Regions from separate parts of the Homo sapiens genome. Here regions 2, 3 and 4 are each linked to region 1. The links come from fine-mapping of genetic effects on gene expression. A gene starts in region 1. Each other region holds a variant in brackets. All regions are shown on one strand. Distances are between the middles of the regions.

Region 1 (8,000 bases):
TCTACCCTTTTATCCTGCTTCATTTTTGTTTACTGTAATACTACTAACAATATTACATATTTGTTTGCTATTAGTTTCAATCATAGGAAAAGGAACTTTGTTTTCTGAGATATCCCCAAAATCTGGCCATAGTAGGCACTCAATAAATATAAATTAAAAACTCAAACTACCTCATCATAAAGAGTAAATGCATTTGGATTTGGTAGAACACTACAGAAATGCAACATAAAGTGAATTTCCTTCTCTGGATCACCTTGAAAAAACCTGCCTGATCTTAAGAAAGAAGTTCAGTGGTCTTCATAAGCACTACTAGTGTAAATCCGTAACAGCCATAGATGAGTAAACTTACAGTCACCTTCAGAAAAGCACATTTACTAATAGTTACTGCATGCCTACCATGTACATCAGAAACAAAAGGTTTGGGGCATTTTGCAGGGAGTAGGTGGAGTGATTTCCCAGCATCAGAAATTTTTTAAACTACTACATAAATGCTACCTATTTCCAGAATTCACTTCTCAAGTTCCCAAATGCACCTCAAAGTTGTCTCTATATGTAACACTTCCTTCAACACACATTGATCCACATGTCTTCTTTCACCATTACCTTGTTTGTGGGCCATTATTACTCCTAAATATTTTAAATGTCTTTGTCTATCACTGGGGAGATTCACCTGTGATATGAGAGATGCCCAATGTACATTTAGTTAAACAAAAATAAGAATACACTCCAATGCACTATAACAGACAAACAAATGAATACTGGGTATCCTGTAGCAAGGTTCCAAATTCACAGCAATTGAATCTTAGAAAGAACATTAAAGGTCATCCGGTCCAGCGGACTGCAAATGTCAGGCTTCAGTGAACTTTTTACTGATCTATGTCAAAATGAGGACAATGTAATAAGTTTTCATAAGGCTAAGTTTTTTAAATTTAAAGACAATCCTTTAGTCAGATTATATTCTTCCTTATATTTGAGGAAGGATACTAAAATGTTTTTTTCTTTCATAAAAAGATGGTGATAGTTGATCATTGTTGTTTCATAAATAATTCTTTTACTTAGCAAAACAAAAAACTTAGCAATTGTTAGACTTCAATTGTTTTTTTCTTTTTTTAATTTTACAGGTCAGTTAAATTCAAAAATGTGAGAACCTCTGCTCTAATCCAACCAATTTTCTGCTGCCTAAATGCCTTAGAACATGGTCAACAAGTTGTTTTTCTGCCTATGCATGACCACCTCTGACGACAAGTCTCTAGTAATGTGGAACCATCAACTGAAAAAAGATATGGTTCTATCTGAGGGATGTTTGCTTAGTTTTGTGAAGGAAAAGCAAAAAAATCAAGGCTTACAGAGAGTAAGCCGACTTGTGAAAATGGAGCCAGTAAAAAAACAAGTGCCAAGAAGACTGATCAGTAAGAGAAGATCAGAGGGATGCACTCAGGCCTATACCTCACAGTCTTCCTTCAACTTATTATGAAAATCCTTTATACAAATAACTATAAAAGCCAGACTGTAAAATACATTCCTGAGGTCAGGGCTGGTCAATTTACATTTCCTTTTGCACATCTCAGTTTACCATCTGAAATTCCTTTACTAATCTACATCTAAACTACATCTCTCAATTTACTACCTGAAATTCCTTTACTAAGCTACATCTTTTAGTTACACATCTTTCAGGTTTGATCAGAAGCAAATGTAACACAGTCTCAATATCACCCAGACCCAGAATGCAACAGAATCTAAATGCCACATATACTCAAGTATGCAAAAAACAATAAGCACAAATATATAGTCCAACGACAATTTTTAATTATATGAGAATTAAAAAGGATGAAAGTTGGAGGCAAGGAATAGAAAAAGCACAAAAGATCAAAAGCTAATTTCAAGGAGTCCATCCTGAAGGAACCAGGAATGGTGGGTACAGATGCCTGACCTCCCTCCAAGACAATGTGCCAACAGGCCAGTGGAGAACAAGGTGGGATCTGAGAACAATGTAAATTTGGATGTTAAAAGAGAACACAAGCAAAAGCACCACGCACAGTGCCAGGCAGAGACAGGCATTCAAATATTTGCACATTGAATGAATTAATAAACAGACACTTACACAAAGAGAATCTGGGGCCGTGCTTCCAACCATACCATAAGGCACTTTAAGTCCAGGTCATCTTTCTTTGACTTAAAGCTCAGGCTAAAAATCTAACTTCATGAAAAGCTGAGTCTTCCTAATAGTTTCCACTGGCCTCTGTTCTAGCCCAGCTCTGGCAGTGAGGCCCGGTAAAGTTCCTTCCTAAAGACACTGCCTGCAAGTCTCAAATCCGGCACACGGGATCCATGGTGGAGGGATGTTAATGGGAGTGGAGGCAAACAGGCCAAGGGGTGGCAAGGAAAAAAACTATTTCTGATCCACAGAATGGCAAATAACACCATAACGAGTTCTTGAATTAGGTTTAATCCTGGACAGAACCAAATGAAAATAAAAACCTACTTGTATTTATAATTAAATAGACAGAAACAATGAAAAAGTCTCACCAACTTTAGCCACCCCTGATTGAAAGGAGTTTTAACAATTCTTTCATCCATGCTGGCATTCCAAGTTTTCCATTATATCTCAGCCTCTCATTGTTCCAGCACTATTGATGGAATCTCAATGCCAAAAATGGCGCTGGTCATCAAAATTATGATTAGCTGATCTACCCTAGAGTCAGTTTATCAATGTTTCAATGCATACATCAATTCTATTTTTTATTATTTCAATTTAAATCATCTGTGTCTCTATTCCCTCCCTCCCTCCAGAGGCTGCTTTCCCACACCCTTCTTTTCACCTGCATTCTAAGTATTCCCTTGTTCTTTCCTTTAGCTCCCTCTGTTCCAAAAGTAAAAACGAACTGCAGGAACTTATGTAGAAGGCAGGTTTACTACAGATAGCATACCTACATGTTACATATTATATACCATATGTTGGCTAAATACAGCTAGCATATCCTGCTTTAAGTGCTTCTGAGCCTGGGCAGACCCCCGTGTGCTCATGCTGCTGATGTGAACCATCCACCATCATATTTCCTAGGGGTTCAGGTGCCTTCCTCCAGCCTGCTGAAGAACATGACCAAATCTCAGAGCCCTCAAAGCCACAGCTATCGAGAGGTGACTAAGCCCCTGCTTCTGTCAGCCCAGGAAGGCCAATTCAAGAGTCTTATCTACCCCCTAGATTTCCACGACCTGTTCCACTCAAGCTAAAAATTCTGAAACGCACTTTTAGAAACTGTCGTTCCAGAATCCCATTAGCTCTCCTAAAAGGGCTGAACATCAAAAAATTATTCAACCCAAGCCAAGTATCCTTATTTTGGCTGGAATTCTGCCAAATAACCACAAGAGACTGGTGCGGTACAATCGGCATGGAGTGAAGCTTGCCAAATTTGACCGGAGAACGACAAGCCTCCATGAATAAGCTCTCATGAAAAGGTAAACCATTCTTCAGGATGAGGTTTGTCTGCGATTTGAAAAGTCAGATTCAAAGGACTCTTGTTCCTTCCTAAGAGAAGAGGGAACCAAAATTGAAATTTTCGAAACTCCTGGGTATTTACAGTTCACTTTTACCAAGATGTTTTTAAAACTAAAAACTAAAATTTAAAAAAAAAACCCTTGTTCTGAATAATGCAATAATGTCTTCTACATAATGTTTCAGCTATTATTTCTAGAAAGTAATTCTGTTGCCAGTGATCTTGAATGTACTTGGGTACCAAAGAAAAAAGACACCTGTGCCTGGCAGGTCGATACGCTACTAATTTGCCCGAGGTACGAACGAAACAGAAGATGCTGATTTCTGGATAAAACGTTCTGCAGTGCCAGGTAAAAGAGGTCACATGCCCTGAACGGCCGCCGCTCATTTAGAGTGATGCAAAAGCTCCTCAGATATTAATTTTGTTAGAAATTCGGGGAATCAAGCAACCTAAGATCAATTCATTTAGACAGCGGGTGACTGGTACTTTCCAGTTTCCTTTTTTCAACGGACTCAGTGCATCCTAGCCTGATCTCTTATAAAGGGGTAGGCAAACTCGGCACCAGGTGCCCATGCATTTCAGGGAGGTACACACAGGACCTGCAGGGTCACCCATGCACAGCCCCACCCCGAATCTTCTATCCGCCCGAGATGGGGAAGACCCTTCCCCAGAAATCCTGGGCAGCGTTTTAAGTCACCGCCTGGCCAGGCTGAGTTTCCGTCCGCGTCCGCTCAGGACTGCGGGCACAGCGCCTCGTCACGCCCCGCATCTCCCACCTCCCGCCGGCCCCGGCGGCTGTCCCCAGAGCTGCGCCCGCGGCCGGCGACACGCGCCGCAGCGGCGCGCTTATCCGCAGCGGCGCAGCCCGCCCGCCCGCTCACTCACGCGGGAGGCAGCGGCGGCGTCTCCATTGTGGCTCCTCTCGGGCTTCAGAACGCAGGCACCGACCAACACAGCCAGCACCATTCCAGCCGCGGACGCCGGCACTGCCCGCCCGCCGAGCCGCGTTCCATCCGCCCCGGAGGGGGCGCCGCGCTCTCCTCACCGCGCGCCACCACCTGCGGCGGCGGCCCCCGCGGCCATGGCCCGCTCGGCCGGGCGCGCTCCGTCTACTGCGCGGCTCCCGCGCTCGCCCGAGTGCGGGGCGGCGGCGACGGGACCGGCGGGCGCGCGGGCTCGGCCACTTCCGGGTTCGGCCCCGGCCGGCGCCGACGCTGTGACGGGACTGCGATGCGGCCTCCCGCGGCGGCCGAGTACCCCTCCCTCGGCGCCTCCCCTTCCTCCTGCTGCTGCTGCTGCCGCTGCCGCTGCCGCTTCTGCTTCTGGAGGCGGGCGGGCGGGCGCCAGCCGGGTGCGGGGCGGGCGTGCCCAGACGCTGGCCCGCAGGCCGGGACGCGGGCGGCGGCCGCCCACAGCGGGTCTCTGGATCGCCGGGACGGGGGCGCTGGAAAATGGGAGCGGAGGGGGTTCTCCGTGCAGAAAAAGGGCGGCCGAACGCACGGCGTAATAATGCTCGGTATCCACTTGCTGCTCTGCTTCGCGGGCGTGTACACGTTATTCTTTTCATTTGTGCCTGTACCCAGGGAGATGGGAAGGGTAGGCATAACCAACCAGTGTCCTTACAAAGGGTGGCACTGAGGCAAGAAGAAGTGATTTGCCTGTCCAGTGTCCCAGGCAGGAAGCAGGCTCTCCCTCCTCAGTATGCTAGCCATTCCTTGGACAAGTGAAGTGAGCACCTGCTAAGCAAGGTTTTAGTGCTGCGGCTGTGACAGCAAAACCAAGTCTTTCTGCTTGTGGAGCTGTCCATCTAGACGGGGTGACGGAAACAGTAAGTGATGCTTACCATGAAGAAACATAAATGAGGATGAGGAGAGGGAAAGAGATTTTAGAAAGAGTGGTCAGAGAAGGCCTCTCAAAAGGCATGAGTTAAAGAGATGGAATAACAGGGGCTTTGAGTAATGCAAAGAATGCCTAGGGCAGAGGGAAGAGCAGCGTGGAGACTGCTAAGCAAGATCCTGCCTGCCTTGTTGAGGAACGGGAAGGAGAACAGTGCAGCTGGTGGTTCTCCAAGTATGCCCGCTGGAAGCAGTAGCACCTGCGAACTTGTTAGAGATGCGAATTTTCCAGTCCCACTTTAGCCCTACTGAACCAGAAACTCTGGGGGTGGGGCCCAGCAGCGTGTGCTTTAACAAGCTTTCCAGATGATGCTTGCTGGGGCCGCGAGGGTGGGAGACCCTCTAATGAAGCAGAGTGAGGTCAGGAGGACGGCGGCAGGAATGGGTGTGGCGAGGAGTAATCACAGATCACCCAGGCCTTGCAGGCCGTGATAAAGGACTTGGCTTTTACTGAGATTAGAAGCAATTAGAAAGTGGTGAGTAGCTTGATCTGATCATTAAAAGGATGACTTTTCTGGGATTTGTTTGAAAATATCCCACAAAAAGAAGGACAGAGGTCGGGCGCCGTGGCTCACGCCTGTAATCCCAGCACTTTGGGAGGCCGAGGCGGGCCGATCACCTGAGGTCGGGAGTTCGAGATCCGCCTGACCAACATGGAGAAACCCCGTCTCTACTAAAAATACAAAAAATTAGCCGGGCATGGTGGTGCATGCCTGTAATTCCAGCTACTCGGGAGGCTGAGGCAGGAGAATCGCTTGAACTAGGGAGGCAGAGGTTGCGATGAGCCGAGATCGTGCCATTGCACTCCAGCCCGGTCAACAAGAGCGAAACAAACTCCGTCTCAAAAAAAAAAAAAAAAAGGACAGAGAAGTGAATAGATGAATATTTGCAAAATGTTAATTTTTGAGGCTAAGTGTTGGGTGCATAGGGGTGGTCATCATTTATGTGTGTTTATGTGTATGTTTTAAAAGATAATAATGGGCCGGGCGCGGTGGCTCACGCCTGTAATCCCAGCACTTTTTGGGAGGCCGAGGCGGGCGGATCATCTGAGGTCAGGAGTTCAAGACCAGCCTGTCCAACATGGCGAAATCCCGTCTCTTCTAAAAATAGCCGGGTGTGGTGGTGGGTGCCTGTAATCCCAGCTACTGAGGAGGCTGAGGCAGGAGAATCACTCGAACCCAGGAGGCGGAGGTTGCAGTGAGCCGAGATCGGGCCACTGCACTCCAGCCCAGGCAACAGAGCGAGACTCCGTCTCAAAATTCATAAATAAATAAAAGTTCATAATACAAAGTTTTTTTTAAAAAAAAAGATGACTGATTGCTGTATGGGCAACATGCATAGCGAGGCAAGAGAGCAAGCAAAGAGATTAGCCTAGCTGGGATGAAAGGTAAGGATGGCTTGGATTAGAGTCCGAGTGACTGAGAAAAGTGAACAGGTTCTGAATCTGTTTAGAAGGTAAAGTACTCAGGAACTGCTGACAGATTAGCATATAAAAGAAAGATGATCCTAAGGGTTTTGTTCTGATCTCTGGGGAGAATTGAGTTGCCCTTTACTGGGATTGGGGATATTGAGAAAGAACAAATATTGGAGGGCGGGGTGGAGATTGTATTTGTAAACTCTGATTTAGATATGGTAAGTTTGAGATGTCTGTTAAACATCCATGTGAAGATAGGTGTAGACAATTAGATATATGTATCTGGGGTAGATATAAATTTGGAAGTTGTTAGTATACAGATGGGTATTGAGATCAACTAGATTATGTAGCTAGAGAAAAGAAGTAGACCAAGAAGTAAGCCCTGGGGCACTCCAACATTAAAAAAGAAGAGGAGGAGGACTCAGCAAAGGCGATGGTAAAGGAACAACCAGGGAAGTAGAAGGAGATCCAAGGCAGGTGTCTTGGCAGCCTAGTGAAGGGTTCCAGAAAACAAACAAACAAACAAACAAAAAACCCTTAGTACACTTCAGCATGAGCTAACTTCTCTGTATGATGGTTCTGTTCAGAGCCATAATAAAACTTCCTACTTTACAAGGTTGTTTTAAGAATTAAGTGAAATAATTGATGTAAAGTATATAGCACATAAATGTATAATGGAAGCACTTAATAAATGTTAGTTGCTGCTATTATTTCTGTACACTTCTGTGGCCATCAGTTATACCTTACTCTGCTAGGAACTGGGTTAAGTCCTAGAGCCAGGAGATACTGACTTAGGTTTTACCAAACCTTTGGCCTGACTTCCTTCTGCATGCAAACTCAGTGAGTAGGGCTGACTCATCAGCCATTTCAGGAACTCTTTTGAGGCGGGGGGTGGGAGGTGGACTTTTTCTATTGCTTTTGTATCTTCCCACCCAAAATAGTGTTATGTGTACAAATAAATACTAAAAAATTACGATGTGTCCGTCTGACAGCTAGGCACATAACTTCAAACCATAGCCCCTCTCACATCCTCCTCTGGGTTAGTTTTGTCTATCATAATTCTTTGCTTAAGGGGTTCGACTCATCTAGCATGCTAAATGTCAACCCAAACCTTTCTTTTTTCACAACCACCCCCATTTGTAGGCTTCACAAGTATACTGGGAAAGAGTACATTACCCACATACAATTCAGCCTTAC
Region 2 (8,000 bases), 320 kb before region 1:
ATCACACCCCTCCCTAGCTCCAAACTCTCCCCTCATCTCCTTCTATATCTTTACTCCGCATTATTTTCTTCATATCACCTACACTACCTGCAAAGGTGTATTATATGTTCATTTTTAAATTTTCATTTTTCCCCCTCCAGTATGTGGCCTCAAGAGCTTAGAACGGTGTCTGACAAACCACAAGCTTGTAATAAATAATAATTGAGCCACTAAATGAGGTTGAGGTACAGCTTTGAGCTGGTAAACATTGAGTTACAGCTAGCAGCTACTGTTGCTGATACAGAATAGACGTATATGTGTGTACAGTATAAAGAACCAGCAGTCATTTCAGCCCACGCTATCACCATTGCTACTACTGCCGCAACTACTACTACCTATACTATTACTACTACTCTTACTAATGAGTGCCCATAATAATAGCAAACCTTTAAGCACTTAATATGTGCCAGGTATTGTACTAAGTACTTGATCTGCATTAAATCAGTCAATCCTCACAAGAATTCCACTAGGTAGTGAGCTGACACAAAAGGTCCTGCTATTGAATCAGAATCATGTGACTCAAAGAACTTACCCAATGTCAAACTTAATTAATAATTTCAAGGATACAAGCAATCAAGGGGCACAAGCAAAGCAATGACAGGTACGAGACATCCCACATGTTCTGGCTCTTTCTTTTTCATAGTCGTCTAGACTTTCAGGCCCAGAGTGATAAGTGAGTTCTCTAATGAAGTTTGCAGGTCACCTCACATAGCGGGGAGAATTTAAGCCATGAAACATCTTCATTTTAACCCAGAGTGTTTTTGCAACTTGTGCAACATTATTGAGATAGCTATGCCTCATACATGTATAGATAATATATAAGATTGTTTACCCTAAGCAACCCTAAACCAGAGACATTCTGCTCAATGTGTATCATAGACAAAAGATCTCCCTCTTAGCAAGTATCACTCGTCTATTTGCCTGCTGGTCTGGAGATAGGGAATAAATGTGTGTTCCCCAGATGTATACATTGAAAATCTAAACTTCAATTTGATAGTATCAGGAAATGGAGTCTTTGGGACAAGGTGTCTGGATGTTTCAGTCAGTCTGGGCTGCTATTAATTGAGAAGTAATTAAGTCCTTAAGGTGGAACCCATATGAATAGGATTAGTGCTCTTGTAAAAGACACCTCAGAGAGCTCTCTAGCCCTCTTTCTGCATATAAAGACACAGCAAAAAGATAGCCATCTATGAGACAGAAAGTGGGCCCTCACAGACACTGAATCTTCCTATGCCTAGATTTTGGACTTCCTAGCTTCCAAAACTGATAGATAAAGTTTGTTGCTTAAGCCACCCAGTCTGTGGTAATCTATGACAGCAGCCCAAACTGACTAAAACATCCAAATACCTTGTTTCTTTTCTATTCCTTTTTTTTGAGACAGAGTCTTGCTCGGTCACCCAGGCTGGAGTGCAGTGGCACGATCTTGGCTCACTGCAACCTCTGCCTCTTGGATTCAACTAATTCTCCTGCCTCAGCCTCCCTAGTAGCTGGGATTACACGTGCCCACCGCCATGCCTGGCTAATTTTTGTATTTTTAGTAGAGACAGGGTTTCACTGTGTTGGCCAGGCTGGTCTTGAACTCCTGACCTAAGGTGATCTGCCCGCCTCAGCCTCCCAAAGTGCAGGGATTACAGGCGTGAGCTACCGTGCCAGGCCTCAAATACCTTGTTTCTGAGGAGATGGGACTGGGTGGCCCGCCTTCTCTTGTTTCTCTGGGTGTGTTTCTCTCATAATCAGTAGTAGAAATGGGTTATATGCCAACTGCTCTAACTCTTTGCTCTGCAGGTAACAAATTAGTATTTATGTATCAGGTTTAGAAAAGTAAACACAGTGAATGAAAGATCTGGAACTGATAATAGAGTATCCAAGAAATCTGTGATTTCTTCACCCCTACACTACTCCCTCCAATAGATAATGCCCTCTATAAGCGCTTAAGTAAATCAAACATTTCTTGAGAAACAGCTATGCTAGGCTTTGTCAGTAAAAAAGAATAGGGCATGGTCTCTGCCATCGAGCTTAGACTGGAAATATAAAAATATAAAGAAAAATGTAATGAAGTGTGGTATGTTCAATGAGACAGTTACAAGGTTGTGAGAATACAAAAATTTGGAGTAATTCAGGAAGTAAAGAGGAGGAGAGCAGGGATGGCTTGGAGGAATGGCCTAGCTGTTGGCTATTCATGTGTGTGTGCCTACCCTTGGAAAATACACATCCTTATAAAGACAAATGATGGAGAGCAAGAAAGAATAACAGAATGCAAGTACACCGTCGGACTCAGTTTGCCTTTCAGAAGGAAATCAAAACCTCTTGACACCAACTGAAAGGCCAAGTTGGACAGCAGTTCCTCTGAAAGCTAGGGGAATTCCACAGTGAAGCTCAAGGCAGTGGAAATCTAATGACCATCACTGCATTTATATTAACTTTGAAAGTTTTCAGAGCATATTCGTCTTACTTTTTTACTAAAAAAGCATGCTGCCTTTCATTTTTATCATTTCTAGGTCATGTTTTATTAAGTGAAGTATGAAAAAGGTAAATGAAAGCAGTTTTAAATATGATAATCATTTTAAAAATTTTTACCATGGATTTACACTGTGTGCAGGACAGTGCATTTCCAAAAACATAGACTTGTGTCTTAGTTTGCTCAGGAAGCAATACCATAGACTAGGTGGCTTATAACCAACAGAAATTTACTTCTCAGAGTTCTGAAGGAGGGGAAGTTCAAGGTCAAGGTGCCAAAAGATTCAGTGTCTGGAGAGGGCCCACTTCCTGGTTCATATATGGCCATCTTTTCGCTGTATTCTTACATGGCAGAAAAGGAAAATGAGTTCTCTGTAGTCTCTTTTCAAGACACTAATCACACATATGGGGGCTCTGCCCCCATGACCTAACCACTTACCCATAACTTCATCTCCAAGGGCCGTCACATTGGCGGTTAGGAATTCAACGTATGAATTTGGTGGGGAGGGAGGACACAAACATTCAGTTTATAGCAGCATGGAACTTACAGAAGCCAGACCATGAGTTATGAAGAGATCTCTATTTTAGAAACAGGTTTAACTGGTAAGGAACTCATCATTTATTATCTCTTCAAATTGATAAATCCTTATTTCTCACAAAAAGAAGAGTGCTATGTTTTTTATTTAAAAACTTATACACACAGGGATGTTATTGAAGAGACACATGACACCATTTCATTAAATCTGAGATTGTGCATCAGCCTTTCATGGCCACAAACCTGGGACCTAGAAGTATGATCCAAGTTGCAGAAGTAGGTACCTAAAAGGAAAGGTAAGAACTATATCTGAAGATCATTAGCAGGAAAAAAAGTAATATCTCACAGGAGATAAAGCACAGACCAGAAGCCAATCTTCCAAGAAATCAGTTAAAAATAGTAGACTGGATAAAGAAAATTTGGTACATATACACCATGGAGTACTACGCAGCCATAAAAAAGAACAAGATTGTGTCCTTTGCAGCAACATGGATGGAGCTGGAGGCCATTATCCTAAGCAAACTCACACAGGAACAGAAAACCAAGTATCACATGTTCTCACTTATAAGTAGGAGCAAAACACTGAGTACATATGGACACAAAGAAGGGAACAACAGACACCAATGCCTACCTGAGAGTGGATAGTGGGAGGAGGGTGAGGATCAAAAAACTACCTATTAGGTACTATGCTTACTACCTGGGTGATGAAATAATCTGTACAACAAACCCCTGTGACATGCAATTTGCCTATATAACAAGCCTGTACATGTAGTCCTGAACCTAAAATAAAAGTTTAAAAAGTAAAAATAAAAAAAGAAATTAGTTAAAATCTTAATCTTAAAAATCTTAACCTTGGTTGCCCCAGAAATATGCAAATGTGAATTTGTCTGCATTACGTGGAGTTGAGCCTGTGGTAAAGCAATTTTTCATTTGTCTTCCTTCATGACAGAACTGCCTTGCCCTTCTAAGAAGCACGGAAGACTTTTTTATCCTCATCTACCTAACTTCCCCAGAACAACCAAGCACTACACTTCGAAAAATCTCCCATGTTCCCTACTTCTTCCTAGTCCACAAATCTAATTTTAAAACTACAAAAACATTAAATCAATTATTTTTTGTATTAACTTAAATGTACCCAATATATAATCCAACTTTCAGATGTCCATAAATGAAGAATAATGCCATCCATTCATATGTCTTTGAGTAATTTTCACCCCTTTTAAGTGAAAAGTTGGTTAAGACTCTGCACCCAGCAGCATAGGGCAAGATTAAGATAAACAGAACCATGAGAACTAGAGATGAAATAAACTATAACTATTCTACAAAGACAATCTAGTTGTTAAGAGCTGTGGGGAAGATCTGGATGAATGGTTTGCTTTTCCAAAAGTTTGAAGTCAGCCCACAAATCTTAGTATTTACTTTGAGGAATTCTTGGGAGAGTATGCACAAATTTATGAAAAAACAACAA[T/C]AATTTGTCACTACAAATTACCCTTATTATCACAAATAAAATCCATCTGCCAATGAAGGAAGGGCACAAAACCCACCTGTCCTACGTACTTCACTGACAGCTGGCAGAAGCCATCTGCTGCTGTTACGGGAGGAATATAGGCAAGAAATCCACTTATCCAAGACTCTGCACTGATACAAGACAGTGTTTCTTTGCCCCTGAGAAGACACAGGAAGCCCAGTTGTATTCCAGACCCTATACCAAGAAGGAAGCAGAGGATGTTTGCTATTGGAGAGAATCAAGAATTTTGAAAAAAGTCCTATCCCTAAGATTTAGGTACATAGGGCCTCCCTAAGACTGAAACCGGGACAGGAAAACCAAGAAATTTTTTCTCTTCACTATAAGTCTTACCCCAAATACCAAAGAACAGACATCTGCTATTAACAGAAGGGCAAGAAGAGAGATCCCCTCCATAGCAGAGTCATACGGGTGCTACTGAAATCTGAGGTAGGACAAAAATACTGAGAGAAATTCTGTTGCTCCATGTCTCATACTAAGCACAGGGCAGTAGCTGTACCCTACTAAAGGAATTTAAAGACTTCATTGCACTAAAGCAACAACAAAGCCCAAACCCAGCTCACCTGCAGTCTAGACAGAATCAACCTCTTCCTCTTCCCCCCAAACACACACACAAACACACACATACATGCACGCACACACGGCTTTATAGGCGAAAAGGCATACTCATTTCTGGACATAAAAATTATTTACCTCCATCTCTGCTGTTCTGTTATACACATGTCCAGCATTTAATCAGAAATTATACAACCTCCAAAAGAGCGAGAAAAAAAATGGACCCATTGTTAAGATATAAAATAATAATAGATAGTCAAAATGTAAAAGAGCCAACAGAATCACACCCAAAAATGGCCTAAGTTGTTGGCATTATCAGACTGAGACTTTAAAATAACTGTGATTAATATGTTAAATGATCTAGTAGAAAAGTTGTACAATATGTGTAAGCAGATGAAGAATTTCAGTAAAGAGATAGAAACTCTTAAGAACCAAAGGAAAATGCAACAAGTGAAAAACACCATACCAAAGATGAAAAATTCCTTTGATGGGCCAGACATAGCAGAGAAAAAAAGAAATGAACTTGAAGATAGGTCATTAAAATTGCATGTACTAAAACACTAAGAGGAGGGAAAAATTAAAATGAAAAGAGTATCTAAGGTCTGCGAAACAATATTAAATATTTTGAAAAAAAAAAACACAGGTAATTGGAGCCCCTGAATAGGAAGAGAGAAAATCAAGGTAGAAGAATTGTTTGAAAAGATAATGATTAATAATTTTTCAATATTAATAAAAACAAACGGGCCACAGAGGAAGCTCAGAGAACTCCATGCAAGATAATACAAAGAAAATATCCATTAAAAAATATAGAAAAGACTTTCTGTCTCTCTCTCTCTCTGTCTCTGTGTGTGTCTGTGTGTATGTGTGTGTGTGTGTGTGTGTGTGTGGTTTGTATTAAAACATAATAATATTTTTAAACATATTCAAAACCTTTTAAATGGCTGTGCATATCATTGGGATTACAACCAAAGCTGACTTTTCATGTGTGGTTACAGACCATTTCAGAATCACTCTGAACATTAGAGTAAGAAAACTAATAATTCAGGAGCCCTATTGTTTACCAGACATTCTGCCACATTCTTCATATACTCACCTCTTTCAACCACCACAAATCATTTATTCATCCTGTCAATATTTATCAAATGCCTACTTTTTGTGCCAGGCATGGCATCTCTGAGAAAGTAACATAAAACTGAAAGCTAGAGGACAAGGAAAAACCACCATGTGAAGACAAAAGTGGCTAATGGGGAAAAGGACAGCCTAGTTTCCAGTCAAAGGAATGAATCCCAAATGTCTTCCAACGAACAGGAGAAAGAATGGCTTCAGTGCAGTAAGCCAGGAGAAGAATGACTGACTAGGAGGCCTGGCCCTGCAGAGGATCACCAGTGCCTTGTAGAACAAAGCACGTTATTAAGCAGCAACTTGAGGACAGATTCTCCTGACTCCCTAGCTTCTGCCCATGTCTCTGGGGTAACTACTGACACTTTTAGAGCTTTACATTCTTCACAGCACTTCCGTATTCCTTACGCATATGAGAGCTCCTAAAAAGAACGGCTGCTTAGCAGAGCTCTAGGCTCTTTCCTCCACTGTGAAATATCATGCGATGCTGCTGAAATATAAGTTCTGACAACAGGAATATGCTGAGAAGCCTCCAAATCTGAGTGAATAAAATGCCCAACTTATTAAGTCATGGGTGGTGGAGACTTTACAGACGCACTCAGCTCCCTGAGCATGATGTCAAGACCTCTACCCCCAACACACCCCTGACCAAAAGTTATGTAACCAGAGGACTCTGCTTCCAATATTGACCACAAATGATGTAATAAAGGTCATCTTTATCTCTCTTTTTCCTGTATTTATCAGTAAAGTGATAATGAAGCCTACAGGGCAAAGACAAGAAGGAGGCTAATGATTGGAGGCAGAAACACATCTACTGAGGGCGTTTATTACCACAAACTCATACTCTTGAGGGAGGAATGCAAGCTGTCATTTAAACATCCTCTGAAGGGCCTTAACTTTAACTCCCTTAACCTATAACCTACTTAGGTAGAGAAAGGGGCAGAAAATACTGTTAAGTACTTTAAGCATTAATGAATACTCCCAAGTATTTGACGCCAAGTAAATGAGATGTCTTTGCAGCCCTGGGTGTTCTGATATACGCGCCTTCACTCTGATACTTTTCTTACCCTTCCTGCCTCCTTGGGCCTTCACTTTAGCCTCCCAGCTAAATTAACTCAACTGAATGTCTATTTGTACTTTTAGTGGGCTACCCATGCTACAGCCTACATTATGAAATCTCATGAATTGACTTCCCATGAGAACCTAGAAATTTGACTCTAGTTCTGACTTTACTGAATTTTGCACTCTATTCAGGAGATATTCCTGTGTGCGGACAGTAGTAGGCATGTGTTTGAGTGGGGACTGGACCTGACTCTCATTTATCCTGCTGTAGCAGCTTGGCAGGTGGGACCTAGGGCCCTGTCCTAATGTCACCTGTCACAGAGATTCTCTCTTCACATTGGCTCTTTTTAATTTTTTTTTTAAGACAGTGTCTTACTCTGTTGCCCAGGCTGGAGTGCAGTGGCACAATGATCTCGGTGCACTGCAAGCTACACCTCCTGTGTTCAAGCGATCCTCCCGCCTCAGCCTCCCAAGTAGGTGGGATTACAGGTGCCTGTCACCATGTCCTTCTAATTTTTTCATTTTTTTATTTTTTATTTTTTGTATTTTTAGTAGAGATGGGGTTTCTCCATGTTGGCCAGACTGGTCTGGGACTCCTGACCTCAAGTGATCTGCCCACCTCGGCCTCCCAAAGTGCTGGGATTACAGACATGAGCCACCACGCTGGGTGCACAATGGCTCTTGATTTTTATTCTCACTGCTACTACC
Region 3 (8,000 bases), 63 kb before region 1:
CCACGCTGCTGAAGCCACGAGAGCATCTCGGGGTGAGCAGCGTGGATTCCACATCCTCCCCTGCTCTCACTCTCTAACCTACCCATTTGGTTGCTCACATTTTTACTTTCCCTAAAGATACTGATGTTATTAAAAATAAGCAGGAGTTCATGGAAGAGATCTCCATGGAACACTGTTAATTTTTTCATTATACCTGTACAATTTAATTTAATTATAATGTATTCTAGAAAGCTTGTTTCCAATGGGCAAGAGAAAGAAATGAAGCAGTTCTTACGTCCAGAATCTCCAGTGAGTTTTCAAAGGATAGAGAGTGCTCTTCCATTTTTTTTTTTTTTTTTGAGACGTAGTCTCACTCTGTCACCCAGGCTGGAGTGCAGTGGAGAGATCTCTGCTCACTGCAAGCTCCGCCTCCCGGGTTCAGGCCATTCACCTGCCTCAGCCTCCCAAATAGCTGGGACTACAGGCTCCTGCAACCACGCCTGGCTAATTGTTTGTATTTTTAGTAGAGACAGGGTTTCACCATGTTAGCCAGGATGGTCTCGATCTCATGACCTCATGATCTGCCTGCCTCGGCCTCCCAAAGTGCTGGGATTACAGGCATGAGCCACTGCGCCCAGCCCGAGAGTGCTCTTCTTATGTGCAGTCACACCATGGACCAGACAATACCCCGAGGTCCTGCAGGCTTTCTCTCCTTATCCATCCTTTTTTCCCTCAGCTTCTTTCTCCTCCCTTCTGCTTTACATGTATATATGTATGTATGTATTGAGTCATCTATTGCTATTTATTTCTTCCCTTCCTTCTTTTCTTTCCTACCTAGAAAAGCCTGTCACAAGTCCTACTGCCTATGATAGGGAAAAGAAAAAGAAAAAGAAAAAGAAAAAGAAAAATATTAACTTTACTGCCACTGTGTCCTGTCACCCTCTTGGAGTTCTTCACAAGCTATGTGATTTGACTTGAAAGTAATTTGAAGGTTTGGGTAAATTTTCTGGACAAATAGAGTGCTTTAAAGACAAATCACCTAAACAACAATTATTTGTTTATGGTAGAAAAGGAGCTATAGACATCTTACTGCATGGACTCCTTATCTCCCCACTTCCTATTTGCTTAAAATGTCAAGAACAATCAGATAGTTTCACTATGAGGAACAATTGCGTATTAGTCTGTTTTCATGCTGCTGATAAAGACATATGCAAGACTAGGCAATTTACAAAAGGAAGAGGTTTAATGGACTTATAGTTCCACATGGCTGGGGAGGCCTTACAATGATGGTGGAAGGCAAGGAGGAGCAAGTCATGTCTTACACGGATGGCAGCAGGCAAAGAGAGAGAGCTTGTGCAGGGAAACTCCCATTTTTAAAACCATCAGATCTTGTGAGACTTACTATCACAAGAACAGCAAAGGAAAGACCTGCCCCCCATGATTCAACTACTTCCCACTGGGTCCTTCCCACCACACATGGGAATTCAAGATGAGATCTGGGTGGGGACATAGCCAAACCATATCAAACTGTTTTATAGTATTATTCTGGATTATTTTGGAAAGTTTATTACAACTAGTTATCAATACACCAAAGATATGGAAATAACTTCATTATACAAGCATGGTCTTTGTAATGGCATTTGTTTAAAATATAAGGATGAAATACATAGGTAAAGCATGACAATTGCTTCAAGATAATACAAGAGGATGTATAAAATTCCTCAAGCTGTAGACATGATTTGTGTACTTTTCTATACGTACATTAGACTTCAGTAAAATGTTTGCATATAAAAAAAAGGGAAGGGGAGTAACGAAGGTTATAATTAAAACAAAATTGTCCCTGAGTTGACAACTGTTGAAGTTGGATCATGAGTACTATTCTATTCTTGTACATGCTTGCAATTTTTCATAATGAAAGATGTTTTAAAATGTTACCTAAAACCTAAGAAACTCAAGCAAATACAAGATTCAGAAGCATGGTATAAAAGCAGTACATCCTTTAAAGCTAGATTCAGATGCAAAATATAGTGCATTAAAAATGAAGAATCAATGCTTCTTTATAATTTTACTGAAAGTGAATAATTTTTCATGAAAAATTCTTGGCATAATTACAAAGGAGGATTCTACAAACTAAGAAACAGAAGTGTTCTAATTCTGGTGGAAAATTTTTTATATTTTGTAGTATACTAGAATAAATTTAAGATTTTAAATAAGAGAAAGATTTTTAAAAATCTAATGATCTCCTAAAAACACAGTAAATGAGTTGCTTCTGATATAAGCAAAACTAAGAGTTCTAGTACATCATATGAACTATGTTTGGATATCCTGTGCATTAATCCTACTTTATTCATTCTCTCCCCAGGCACTGACCCTCCTCTCCCCATTAGCAGTCAGTAACATTTATCAATCACTATAGAGAAAACTGGCAGCCCAGGAAAGATAAAAGGTTAAATAGTGATTGTTTCATGCAGCAAAAAATATCTAAAAATACAAAAGCTTTCTTGGTTTTCCTAATAGAAGTCACTTATAACAGGTGCATTAAGTCTAGCAGTTAATGGAATCTGAATTTAGAAGTAATATTTTCTACTTAGTTGAACAGAATTGCTTGCATTGGAATACACCAATAAATTCATATTTGTCTTTGGTTTTTCATAAAATGCTTCATTCTATTCAAAAGTGCTGCATGAATAGTGCTACACACTACAGGCATTCCCCAACTTACAGAAGGGTTGTGTTCTAAAAGCTCATCTGTAAATCGGCTTCCTAGAACTCAGATCACATTTTTTCACTGAAATAATTTTCTAAAGGGCAGTTAGGCCATCAGGCCACCCAATAGAAATCAATAAGGTCTAAATTTATTGGACCTACTGTGATTTAGTGAAGCACTGTGGTTTTTGTTTTTTCAACTAACCACTTTGAACCATTATTTATTTGGTAAATGAAATACGGATTCTAGGACTACTACTCTCCAATGCTCTGTGCAGGCAGAGACACACATATATATACACACATGCATTCTCCCTTACCCACATCTATGTACCAAAAGCTTCCTTACTCATCAGAGTAAGCACACTGAAGCAGTTTAGACAAAAGGCTCCTGCATTTGAAATCTGGGGAAGTTACAGTTCTAGAGCCTATTAAAGGAGCAGTGAACACAGAAGCTTCCACAGGAACTATTCCTATTGAGTCTCATAGATGCAAAGCAGAGTCTTGCAGGCAGTTGGTGGATTGTAACTTCTACCAGATTTATCTTCCAGAAATATAGTTTAAAAACAAATTAGCAACTTCCGTAAGTCCCAGACAGAGTAATCAGGCAAAAGAAAGAAATAAAGGGCATCCAAATTGGAAAAGAGAAAGTCAAACTATCTCTGTTTGCTGATGATATGATCTTATACCTAGAAAGCCCTAAAGACTCCTCCAAAAGGCGCCTAGCTTTGATAAATGAATTCAGTAAAGCCTCAGGTTACAAAATCAATGTACATAAATCAGTAGCACTGCTACACACGAACAATGACCAAGCTGAGAATCAAATTAAGAACTCAATCCCTTTTATAATAGCTACAAAATAAAATAAAATACTTAGGAATATATTTAACCAAGGAGGTGAAGAACTCTACAAGGAGAACTACAAAACACTGCTTAAAGAAATCATAGATGATACAAACAAATGGAAATACATCCCATGTTCACAGACTAGAAGAATCAACACCATGAAAATGACCATACTGTCCAAAGCAATCTACAGAGTCAATGCAATTCCTATCAAAATGCCATCACTCTTCACAGAATTATAAAAAAAAAATCCTAAAATGCATATGGAATTTTTTTAAAAAGGCCCAAATAGCCAATGTAATCCTAAGCAAAAAGAACAAATCTAGAGGCATGACATTACCTGACTTCAAATTATACTAATATAAGGGTATCATAACCAGAACAGTATGGCACTGGCATATAAGTAGATATGTAGACCAATGGAACAGAATAGAGAACCCAGAAATAAAGTAAATATTTACAAACAACTGATCTTCGACAAAGCATACAAAAACATAAACTGGGGAGAACAAAAGGCAGCAGACCGCTTCTGCAGACTTAAATGTCCCTGTTTGACATCTCTGAAGAGAGCAGTGGTTCTCTCAGCATGGCGTTTGAGCTCCGAGAAGGGACAAACTGCCTCCTCAAGTGGGTCCCTGACCTCTGTGTAGCCTGACTGGGAGACACCTCCCAGTAGGGGATGACAGACACCTCAAACAGGTGGGTGCCCCTCTGGGATGAAGCTTCCAGAGGGAGGATCAGGCAGCAATATCTGCTGTTCTGCAGCCTCTGCTGGTGATACCCAGGCAAACAGGGTCTGAAGTGGACCTCCAGCAAACTCCAACAGACCTGCAGCTGAGGGGCCTGTTGGAAGAAAAACTAACAAACAGAAAGGAATGGCATCAGCATCAACAAAAAGGACATCCACACCAAAACCCCATCTGCAGGTCCCCAACATCAAAGACAAAAGGTAGTTAAAACCACAAAGATGGGGAGAAACCAGAGCAGAAAAGGTGAAAATTCCAAAAACCAGAGCATCTCTTCTCCTTCAAAGGATCGCAGCTCCTCGGCAGCAAGGGAACAAAACTGGATGGAGAATGAGTTTGCCAAATTGACAGAAGTAGGCTTCAGAAGGCTGGTAATAACAAACTTCTCTGAGCTAAAGGAGCACGTTCTAACCCATCACAAGAAAGCTAAAAACCTTGAAAAAAGGTTAGACGAATGGCTAACTAGAATAAACAGTGTAGAGAAGACCTTAAATGACCTGATGGAGCTGAAAACCACAGCAAGAGAACTTTGTGACTCATGCACAAGCGTCAATAGCCGATTCGACCAAGTGGAAGAAAGGATATCACTGATTGAAGATCAAATTAATGAAATAAAGCAAGAAGACAAGATTAGAGAAAAAAGAGTGAAAAGAAATGAACAAAGCCTCCAAGAAATAT[G/A]TGATTATGGATAAAGACCAAATATACGTTTGATTGGTGTACCGGAGAGTTATGGGGAGAATGGAACCAAGTTAGAAAACACTCTTCAGGATATTATCCAGGAGAACTTCCCTAACCTAGCAAGGCAGGCCAACATTCAAATTCAGGAAATATAGAGAACACCACAAAGACAAAGATAATCCTCAAGAAGAGCAACCCCAAGACACATAATTGTCAGATTCACCAAGGTTGAAATGAAGGAAAAAATGTTAAGGGCAGCCAGAGAGAAAGGTCGGGTTACCCACAAAGGGAAGCTCATCAGACTAACAGCAGATTTCTTGGCAGAAACCCTACAAGCCAGGAAAGAGTGGAGCCAATATTCGACATTCTTAAAGAAAAGGATTTTCAACCCAGAATTTCATATCCAGCCAAACTCAGCTTCATAAGTAAAGGAGAAATAAAATCCTTTACAGACAAGCAAATGCCGAGAGAATTTGTCACCACCAGGCCTGCCTTACAAGAGAGCTCCTGAAGGAAGCACTAAACATGGAAAGGAATAACCGGTACCAGCCACTGCAAAAACATGCCAAATTGTAAAGACCATGGATGCTATGAAGAAACTGCATCAATTAACAGGCAAAATAACCAGCTAACATCATAATGACAGGATCAAATTCAAACATAACAATATTAACCTTAAATGTAAATGGGCTAAATGCCCCAGTTAAAAGACACAGGCTGGTAAATTGGATAAAGAGTCAAGACCCATCAGTGTGCTGCATTCACGAGACCCATCTCACATGCAAAGACACACACAGGCTCAAAATAAAGGGATGGAGGAAGATCTACCAAGCAAATGGAAAACAAAAAAAAAGCAGGGGTTGCAATCTAGTCTCTGATAAAACAGACTTTAAACCAACAAAGATCAAAAGAGACAAAGAAGGCCATTACATAATGGTAAAGGGATCAATTCAACAAGAATAGCTAACATTCCTAATATGTACCCAATACAGAAGCACCCAGATTCATAAAGCAAGTCCTTAGAGACCTAAAAAGAGACTTAGACTCCCACACAATAATAATGGGAGACTTTAACACCCCACTGTCAATATTAGACAGATCAACGAGACAGAAGGTTAATAACAAGGATATCCAGGACTTGAACTCAGCTCTGGACCAAGCAGACCTAATAGACATCTACAGAACTCTCCACCCCAAATCAACAGAATATACATTCTTCTCAGCACCACATTGCACTTATTCTAAAATTGACCACATAATTGGAAGTAAAGCACTCCTCAGCAAATGTAGAAGAACAGAAATCACAACAAACTGTCTCTCAGACCACAGTGCAATCAAATTAGAACTCAGGATTAAGAAATTCACTCAAAACCACACAGCTACATGGAAACTGAACAACCTGCTCCTGAATGACTACTGGGTACACAACGAAATGAAGGCAGAAATAAAGATGTTCTTTGAAGTCACTGAAAACGAAGACAGAATGTACCAGAATCTCTGGGACACATTTAAAGCAGTGTGTAGCGGGAAATTTACAGTGCTAAATGCCCACAAGAGAAAGCAGAAAAGATCTAAAATCAACACCCTAACATCACAATTAAAAGAACTAGAGAAGCAAGAGCAAACACATTCAAAAGCTAGCAGAAGACAAGAAATAACTAAGATCAGAGCAGAACTGAAGGAGACAGAGACACAAAAAACCCTTCAAAAAATCAATGAATCCAGGAGGTGGTTTTTTAAAAAAATCCACAAAATTGATAGACTGCTAGCAAGACTAATAAAGAAGAAAAGAGAGAAGAATCAAATAGATGCAATAAAAAAATGATAACGGGGATATCACCACCAATCCCACAGCAATACAAACTACCATGAGAGAATACTATAAATTCCTCTATGCAAATAAACTAGAAAATCTAGAAGAAATGGATAAATTCCTGGACACATACACCCTCCCAAGACTAAACCAGGAAGAAGCTGAATCTCTGAATAGACCAGTAACAGGTTCTGAAATTGAGGCAATCATTAATAGCCTATTAACCAAAAAAAGTCCAGGACCAGATGGATTCACAGCCAAATTCTAACAGAGGTACAAAGAGGAGCTGATACCATTCCTTCTGAAACTATTCCAATCAATATAAAAAGAGGGAATCCTCCCTAACTCATTTATGAGGCCAGCATCATACTGATACCAAAGGCTGGCAGAGAAACAACAAAAAAAGAGAATTTTAGGCCAATATCCCTGATGAACATCGATGCAAAAATCCTCAATAAAATACTGACAAACCAAATCCAGCAGCACATCAAAAAGCTTATCCACCATGATCAAGTCAGCTTCATCCCTGGGATGCAAGGCTGGTTCAATGCACGCAAATATATAAACGTAATCCATCACATAAACAGAACCAATGACAAAAACCACATGATTATCCCAATAGATGCAGAAAAGGCCTTTGACAAAATTCAACAGCCCTTCATGCTAAAAACTCTCAATAAACTAGGTATTGATGGAACGTATCTCAAAATACTAAGAGCTATTTATGACAAACCCACAGCCAATATCATACTGAATGGGCAAAAACTGGAAGCGTTCCCTTTGAAAACCAGCACAGGACAAGGATGCCCTCTCTCACCACTCCTATTCCACATAGTGTTGGAAGTTCTGGCTAGGGCAATCAGGCAAGAGACAGAAATAAAGGGTATTCAGTTAGGAAGAGAGGAAGTCAAATTATCTCTGTTTGCAGATAACATGATTGTATATTTAGAAACCCCATTGTCTCAGCCCAAAATATCCTTAAGCTGATAAGCAACTTCAGCAAAGTCTCAGGATACAAAATCAATGTGCAAAAATCACAAGCATTCCTATACACCAATAATAGAGAGCCAAATCATGAGCAAACTCCCATTCACAATTGCTAAAAAGAGAATAAAATACCTAGGAATACAACTTACAAGGGATATGAAGGACCTCTTCAAGGAGAACTACAAACCACTGCTCAAAAAAATAAAAGAGGACACAAACAAATGGAAGAACATTCCATGCTCATG
Region 4 (8,000 bases), 100 kb before region 1:
TCATAATTTACCATACTTATGAAAACTTTTGAAATCTGGCTTGTAAGCTGCTTGCTATTTCAAATTTATATGGATGCTTTCACCTCTCCCCGCTTAACATTGAATACATGTCCTCCACTCTTTGCCAGCTTAGTTCTTTCTTTCCAATAATTTAGGTGCTTGGATGAGGTCCTTAGCCTAGGTTATTAAAAAGGAAGAGCTGAACAGATCTTATCAGAAGTTTGTTTCAGATTATCAGGAATATGGAATGAGGGTGAGATTTTAAAATACTCTTATGAACTTAAATAATTTTAAAATATATGCTCAATTGGATTATACTGTATCTTGTAAATTATAGAAGTAAATAATTCAAATTTTGTTATTTGCATAGAAAATAAACATCATTGATTGAGAAGGAAAAACAAACTGAAAAGTAAGCTTTCAGATTTCTCTCTCTTCCTGATTATCAAATAAACTCAAGTAATGTTGTCTAAATCAAAATATGAAACAACTTTTCAACAGAGACTTACGTCTTTTTCCTAAATCCTACCCTTTCCCACACAATTTTTTGAAGAACAGGATAATGGTAGCTCTATATATACAAATTATCTCTTTATTCTTCTACCTAAATGAGTGAATTTTGATATGAAAACAATAAACACATATAGAGAAAAAATAAATTAGTCTAACCTTTAAGAAAATATTCATAAAAAGCTCAAATTGCAACTAAATTTCCTAATCCAGGAAGACACATGCACAAATCACCATGGCTTTTCTAACTTAATGTATACTGGAGTCACTTATTCTACTAAGGACCCATATTTGAGGGTCTTACCATCTAACGAACTGATTACCATATACAACTGACTAGATGACGTGCAAGGCCAAACAGAATTAACTATAAATTCTGGTCTGCTGCCAACAGTATCTGCAGTTCCACATACTTAGTCTCTCTTAGTAATCACCCTTCTTTAAAGAGAAACTAAGATGAGCGCTGATGGAGGGGGGTGTCCAATGGTGTACAGTAAGTTTGAGACTCACCAGGAACTTATTTTACACTATGAGAAATGACATGAAGATAATGGCATTTTGAAGAATCCTAGCATTTCCTGAAAGGCTATGTAGCTATCTTGAGTCTATTTTCCATTTGTATTTCCCTTTCTTGATTCTTCTTTTTAAGTGGTTAGTTCCCTAATCTTGAAGTTCTCTACTTTCTTAAAATTATTTGTTGTTATTGTTGTTGCTTTAGTTTTTCCATTTTTCTGGAAATCCTGAACTGTATTAAGCTAGGGTTACCTTTGCAGACTTCCCCTCTAGATTTAGATAATCAACTAGCTTTTTAACCTAGTATAAATATCTACTCAACTAGACTAAATTTCCTGAGAACTAGGATCTCCAGTGTATGATAGATACATAGTAGGCACTAAATTATATCTGTTGTAAGAATGAATGAATTCAGTATCATTTAAAGGGTCTACACCTAATTTAATTAGTCTCCACATTTATCACCAAAAAGTAGCAGCTAGTAGAAATGATGAGTTTACTGAAGTGTCACAACAACCTGTTATGTTCCAGAGACTATGGCAGGCATTCACTTTATAGGATTATTACATAAGTTTCTGGCTTTAAAGAGTTCAGAGTCTATCAGGGAACCCAGATCAGTAAAAGAACAATGGAAATACCATTGATATTCATTGATAGAGTGATACCAGTGAAACTTAAAATAAAATTCAACATAAGTTTTATAACCTTAAACTGACAGATACCTGCATTTCTTCTGCACATGTTCATATCTGCAACCTGTCTCCATGCGTTAGTGGTGGGATCATATACTTCAACACTTTTTCGTACTAAAGGGCCATCATGACCTCCTACAGCATACAATAAATTGTTTAACACACCAACACCTATAAAACACAACCAGCCAAATAGAGGGGCAAAAAGAACAAGAGATTTATATCATATTAGGTTTATTTAAATGACTTGTAACTAAAACTTTCGAAGTTATAATTCATAATAAAAGCAAGCTGATACTATAGCCTACAATTTAAGAAATGGAAATCAATACAATTGATGATTAAATAAGCATCTCAACAAACTATTATTCTGAAAAAAGAGGCATGTCAAACAGAATAAAAATATTAATAACATGTAGGTGAAACACAGGGAGGGAAAAAGTCCTTTAATGTAATCCTTTTGAAAACAATATCCATAGTAAAATAACCGCATATTAAAGCACAAAATTTTAAGAAATATACATGAAAAGACTTGATTATTAAGCAAGTTCCCCAATAAGCACTAAAAACAAAAAACTAAAAGGAGTGCTAACAACTTGAATATATAAATGAAACAGAAATGTCTATGGCACTTAGACATTAAATTTTAAAGTAAAATTACTTTGTAATTACTCCCATTACCTGCACAATTCAAAAGACATTTAGCAGTGCCACTAAAATCAGCATATCATATATTTTCAGATAATGTAAAGTGATGCCACTGAATCATTTTACTTTAACTATTTTCCATCATTTTTGTGCTTCAGTTGCTAAAACAGGTTCACATGTACCTGCTCCACTCCGCCTGGTGCTCATTTCTGCTATATAGGTCCACTCATTTGTTGTAGCATTATAGCATTCTACTGTGCTAAGACACTGACGTGATGCTCCATCATAACCTCCTACAGCATAGAGCAAACCTACACATAAAATCACATAGAAAGCCAAATTTATTAAAAAACAAACAAACAAAAAACACTAATTTTTCAAGCCAGAAAATATTAATATATTTTCCTTCATGGCAGCAGAGTTTCCCCTTAAAGTGCTGCTGATTTTTATGAAATATATTAGGGTCTTGCCTAATGGTGACAGATGGGGTAATCAAATCATGTTATGAAGATCTGCAGGGTATAGCTGATGATGTTAATTTTATACTTTCATCAATAATCTGATAAAATAGCACACTCATTATATCTTTAGGTAACACTATTTGATAAGTGAACAACATCCTGTAAGACAGAATTAAATACCAAAGTTATCTTAGGAAATCGGAAAAAAGGTTAAATCAAAAATTAATAACAGAATGCAATGCAATATTACTTGGCATTAAAAAGGCATGAAGTACTAATAAATGCCTCAGTATAAATAAACAAATCTTGAAAACATCACCCTAAGCCAAAGAAGTGAGTCACCAAAGATCACATACTGTATGACTA[A/C]AATATTCAGAAGAGGCAAATCTCTAAGTGATAGAAAGTAGACTAGCAGTTGCTGAAGGTTGGGTAAGATACGAGTAAGAGCCAAGGGAAGCAGGATTGCTTTTAGAGGATAATAAAAATGTTTTAAAATGAATTGCAGTGATGGATGCACAATGAACTGTATACATGAAATGGGTGAATTGTATGATGTGGATTATATCACAATAAAGCTGTTTTTTTCTAAGTGCACAGATTACACCTACGATGAGGAGGGGGTGGAAACCTGCAAATTTGCCCAAGTCAATTAAAAAAAAATAATAATAATAATACTTAGAGCCTTCCTTAACTTCTGTTGGGAGACAAAGTAGGATATAAATAAATAACTGTGGCAATCCATCCCTTAACAGCCCTTCTCCAGATATAAAATTACACATTTATGTCACCTGAATTGTTCCCCCAAGCAACTGTTAAAATCAGTTGACAGTCTTATACAGCAGCAGTCCCCAAACCGCAGGCCATGGACCGGTACCTGTCTGGAACCTGTTAGGAACCGGGCTGCACAACAGGAGGTGAGCGGCAGGTGAGCAAGTATTACAGCTGAGCTCTACTTCCTGTCAGATCAGCAGCGGCATTAGATTCTCACAGAAGTGTGAACCCTATCTTGAAATGCACATTTGAGGGACCTAGGTTGTGCACTCCTTATGACACTCTAATGCCTGATGATCTGAGGTGGGAACAGTTTCATCCCAAAACCATCCCCCCAACCCACCCCTGTCCATGGAAAAATTGTCTTCCACAAAACCAGTCCCTAGTGCCAAAAAGGTTGGGGACTGCTGTTATATAAGTCAAACACACACGTGTTATATAAGTCAAACACACACAGTTATATAAGTCAAACACACACACACACACACACACACACACACACACACAGAGAGAAAGGAGGAGGGATAAAGGGAGGGGGATAGAGAGGGAGAGAAAAGGCTTTATATAGGTTGATTTATATAGAGAAGCTAATTTTAAAAAGAGGATAACTGAAATTTTACAGTAATTACGACTTTTCTTTTTAAAATGATAATTAGCTTGCCCATTCAGAAAACTAAAGTTGAGATTACTGGAAGAACCACTCTCAAGGATCAAAATGCCACATGTACCTGAAAGAACTGTCAACACCTACCTCCAACAACACCCACACCAACACTGCTCCTCCTTGTATTCATGGGAGCTACATGAAACCACTCATTAGACTTTATGTTGTATGCTTCCACAGATGACAAACCTATAATAAAGCACAATAGTCTTCATTTCCTTCTCTAAAAAATGTCAATAGTTCATATATATGGAAAAATACTTCAGGTATGTTATACTGGGCTAAAATTAAGAGAAGAAAATGGTGGAACATAAACACAGCAATTACATGAAAAACAGGTACAGCTTGTTTTCCAGAAGGCTCCTACCTAAGCTACTGATATTTATAAGCTTTTAAAATTTGATGACTGATACTGATGCATAAGAAAGAAAATTTATATACTCACCACTCATATCATTTAAGGAAATTCTTGATAAAATTTTAAACTTATCTTTAAATACCAGTTAAAACCTCACATGTTGTAATCCCAGCACTTTGGGAGGCCGAGGTGGGCGGATCACAAAGTCAGGAGATTGAGACCATCCTGGCTAACATGGTGAAACCCCGTCTCTACTAAAAAATACAAAAAAAATTAGCCGGGCGTGGTGGCGGGCACCTATAGTCCCAGCTGCTCGGGAGGCTGAGGCAGGAGAATGGCATGAACCCGGCAGGCGGAGCTTGCAGTGAGCCGAGATTGCGCCACTGTACTCCAGCCTGGGCGACGGAGCAAGACTCCATCTCAAAAAAAAAAAAAAAAACACAAAAAACCTCACATGTGCCCTAATGTTGCCACAATTTATTCCATAAACATGACTACTACGTTAATTTTAGCAGCAATGTAGAATAAATGAAAAGGAAATTACCTGTACTCCCATCAAAGCCTCCCACAGCGTATAATAATCCATTTAACACAGCAGCTCCCAAAGTGCTTCTCCGGTCTCTCATGTTAGCAACGCTGGTCCACTGGTCCTTCACAGGGTCGTAGGAATCTACAGTGCGAACTCTTAATGAGCCATTAAAGCCACCAACAGCAAAAACAAGTCCAGCCATGTAGACCATGCCTGCAAAAGGAGTACAGCATTTAATGATCAACATGCAACTCAACTACCACCAATATCCAAAGATTGCTTTCTGATAAATCTATAGCTGTTGTCAGAACATGCTACTCTTAGGAGGAGCCTGATTAAATAAATCCTTGAAAATGCTATTCATTTGCAAGAACATCCAATCACTAAATTGTCTTTCTTTCTAAGGTTATTATTATTATTATTTCTTCCTTTCTTTATTTTGAGACGGAGTCTCACTCTGTCGCCCAGGCTGGAGTGCAGTGGCGCCATCTCAGCTCACTGCAAGCTCAGCCTCCCGTGTTCACACCATTCTCCTGCCTCAGCCTCCTGAGTAGCTGGGACTACAGGCGCCCGCCACCACACCCAACTAATTTTTTGTATTTTTAGTAGAGATGGGGTTTCACTGTGGTCTTGATCTCCTGACCTCGTGATCTGCCCGCCTTGGCCTCCCAAACTGCTGGGATTACAAGCGTGAGCCACTGCACCTGGCCTTCTTTCTAAGGTTATTAAAAAATGCAATGGCATGGGCTAAAGTACCATGTTGACTCTTGGTTTTTTTAAATATCAATTTACAAGCTTAAATAATGAGCCATTATTTTCCAACTACTTGAACCTGTACTCACCTCCCATAGCTTTCAATTTTGGATCTTCTAGTGGATATTCTTAGAATGAAACTCCATACGCTTATAATTTATTTGCATAACGTATTCCTAGTTTATCATGTTAGTGGGCTAAATCAGGGGTCGGCAAATTTACAGCTACAGGCTAAATTTGGTCCAGCGAACTATTTCTGTAGAACCCATAAGCTAAGCATGGTTTTTATATTTTTAAATGGCTGAAAAACAACCAAAAGAGGAATAATATTTCATGACATGTAAAAAGCTATATGAAATTCAAATTTCACCATCCATAAATATAGTTTTATTGGAACACTGCCACACTCATTCATTTACATATGGCTGGTTTTGCACTATAGCAGTAGATAAGAAGCTGTGACAGAGACCATATAACCACAAAGCCTAAAATACTTATTCTCTGGTCCTTCAAGAGAAAGTCTGCTGATCCTTGGGCTAAAGAGATATTACGGAATCAGTGAATGGAGAAACTAGACTGCTAGACTCAGGTTTCAACCATCTTTTCACTTTTCTCAACTTTTTTCATGCTGCTGTCCTAATCGGACAGGCTCCTATCACCATCTACTCTGTTCTCTTTAACTCTGAATCCTCAGTTAAAGTTCCACATTCTCTATGATGCCTTCCCTGTCCACTTTAGCCTAAAAGGGATTATGTCCAGCTCCCGAACCCTATAGCAAATAACATCTATGTTGTGTACTTCAGGTTTAATAAATGTACCGTCTATAATATAATTACTTTAAATTGTTCAAATTTTTATTGTTCTTAGTTCTATAATGTTTATGTCCCTGTGCCAGCCTGAGGGCAGGCAATGTGGCTCACAGTTCTCTGAATCCCTGTAGGGAGAACTGGAATCACCAGATATGTTTGACGAGCTCAATGTTTTGCAGATGTTATCAGGCAAGAGATGTACCTCTGCCCCTTACTGTCTTAACCTCTGGTGCTTTATTCCCCCACCCCTGTAAAAATACACGGAAATGCAGTCCTCCATATGGCAACAAGACCTTTCCAGTTCAGATGAAGTTGCCTGTTTTGGCCCCCTGCTAGCACAGAATTTAACAGACATCCTAAGAGGGCCTGGAGACTCGTGAGCAGCAACATACCAGGCAGCATGTTTCAGCATGAAACAATCCTGTATCCCAAAATCATAACTAACTCCAGGGAATGTTCATTGTGGGAATCTTGCCCATTGCAATTTTCATTTTCCTTTCTCTACCCACAAAATAACACTACAAATATGCCATCTCTTAGAAGTAACATAGTATGCTTACCAAGGTTTAGAGAATTTTAGGTCACAGAGAGGAAGAAAATAAATGAATCAATCTATGAAGTGCCCCCTACCAAAGGCTCTGGGTCTGGAGAAGGGACTGAACTAAAAGAAGTATGATAACCTCCCAAAGTTATCAGGAAACTGAAGTGCCCAGAAGTTTAATTACACAGTTTATTAAAATTTGGCCAAGTTTACACAGTTAAGGACATTGGCTCTAATCTGAAGGAGGGAGAGGAAAGAGGGCATGATGAAGATAAAATTTATTCATAGTTACCCAATAAGTAAAGAATACATTTTGCAATAAAATGAGTCAAATGACTTATGGCCTCAATGAAAAGGGAACTGTATTAGGAATCAGATATGAATTAAGAAACCAGTTAGTAAATGGCATACAAGACTCCATTTCAGATAGTAACGATAAAGATAAAACACCTAAAAATAAACTTGCCAAGAAACACAGAGGACCATTGGAAGAAAATGTTAAAAATCTACTGAAGGATATAAAAGAAGACAGGAGTCCTATCACTAGTTTCATAACATAGTAAAACATATTATAAAGCTCAGTAACTAAAATTGGCTTTGTCTTGATGCATGAATAGGCAAGACAAATCAATGGAAGAGAACAGAAAATTTAGAATAAAACCAAGTAAATGTGGAAATTTAATACATGATAAAGGCAGCATTTCATCAAATGAATGGAGACAGATAAGTCAATAAGGGGTATTTGGACAAC

What was found. PIP is the estimated chance that this variant, and not a neighbour inherited with it, causes the effect. A credible set is the group of variants that fine-mapping cannot tell apart.
Region 2: its variant is the best candidate, but not a certain one, in a credible set for the expression of KLHL2 in whole blood (INTERVAL, PIP 0.74).
Region 3: its variant is the best candidate, but not a certain one, in a credible set for the expression of KLHL2 in whole blood (INTERVAL, PIP 0.80).
Region 4: its variant is the best candidate, but not a certain one, in a credible set for the expression of KLHL2 in whole blood (INTERVAL, PIP 0.77).

Annotation. Positions count from the first base shown.
Region 1 is chr4:165,204,282-165,212,281 of GRCh38, reverse strand. It overlaps KLHL2 (kelch like family member 2), which reads right to left and starts at 4,721. Exons shown (of 15, transcript NM_007246.4): 1 at 4,380-4,721. The coding sequence starts at 4,405. RefSeq lists a silencer at 4,420-5,069 and an enhancer at 4,600-5,100.
Region 2 is chr4:165,523,807-165,531,806 of GRCh38, reverse strand. No RefSeq gene overlaps it. Among named protein-coding and RNA genes, the nearest start is that of MIR578, 140 kb to the right of the region's middle. The variant T/C (reference allele first, on the strand shown) is at 4,500.
Region 3 is chr4:165,266,947-165,274,946 of GRCh38, reverse strand. The region is part of intron 5 of KLHL2 (kelch like family member 2); the gene reads right to left. Among named protein-coding and RNA genes, the nearest start is that of GK3, 8.8 kb to the left of the region's middle. The variant G/A (reference allele first, on the strand shown) is at 4,956.
Region 4 is chr4:165,307,912-165,315,911 of GRCh38, reverse strand. KLHL2 (kelch like family member 2) reads right to left here. Exons shown (of 15, transcript NM_007246.4): 10 at 5,162-5,359; 11 at 4,347-4,448; 12 at 2,546-2,674; 13 at 1,746-1,886. Among named protein-coding and RNA genes, the nearest start is that of MSMO1, 16 kb to the left of the region's middle. The variant A/C (reference allele first, on the strand shown) is at 3,191.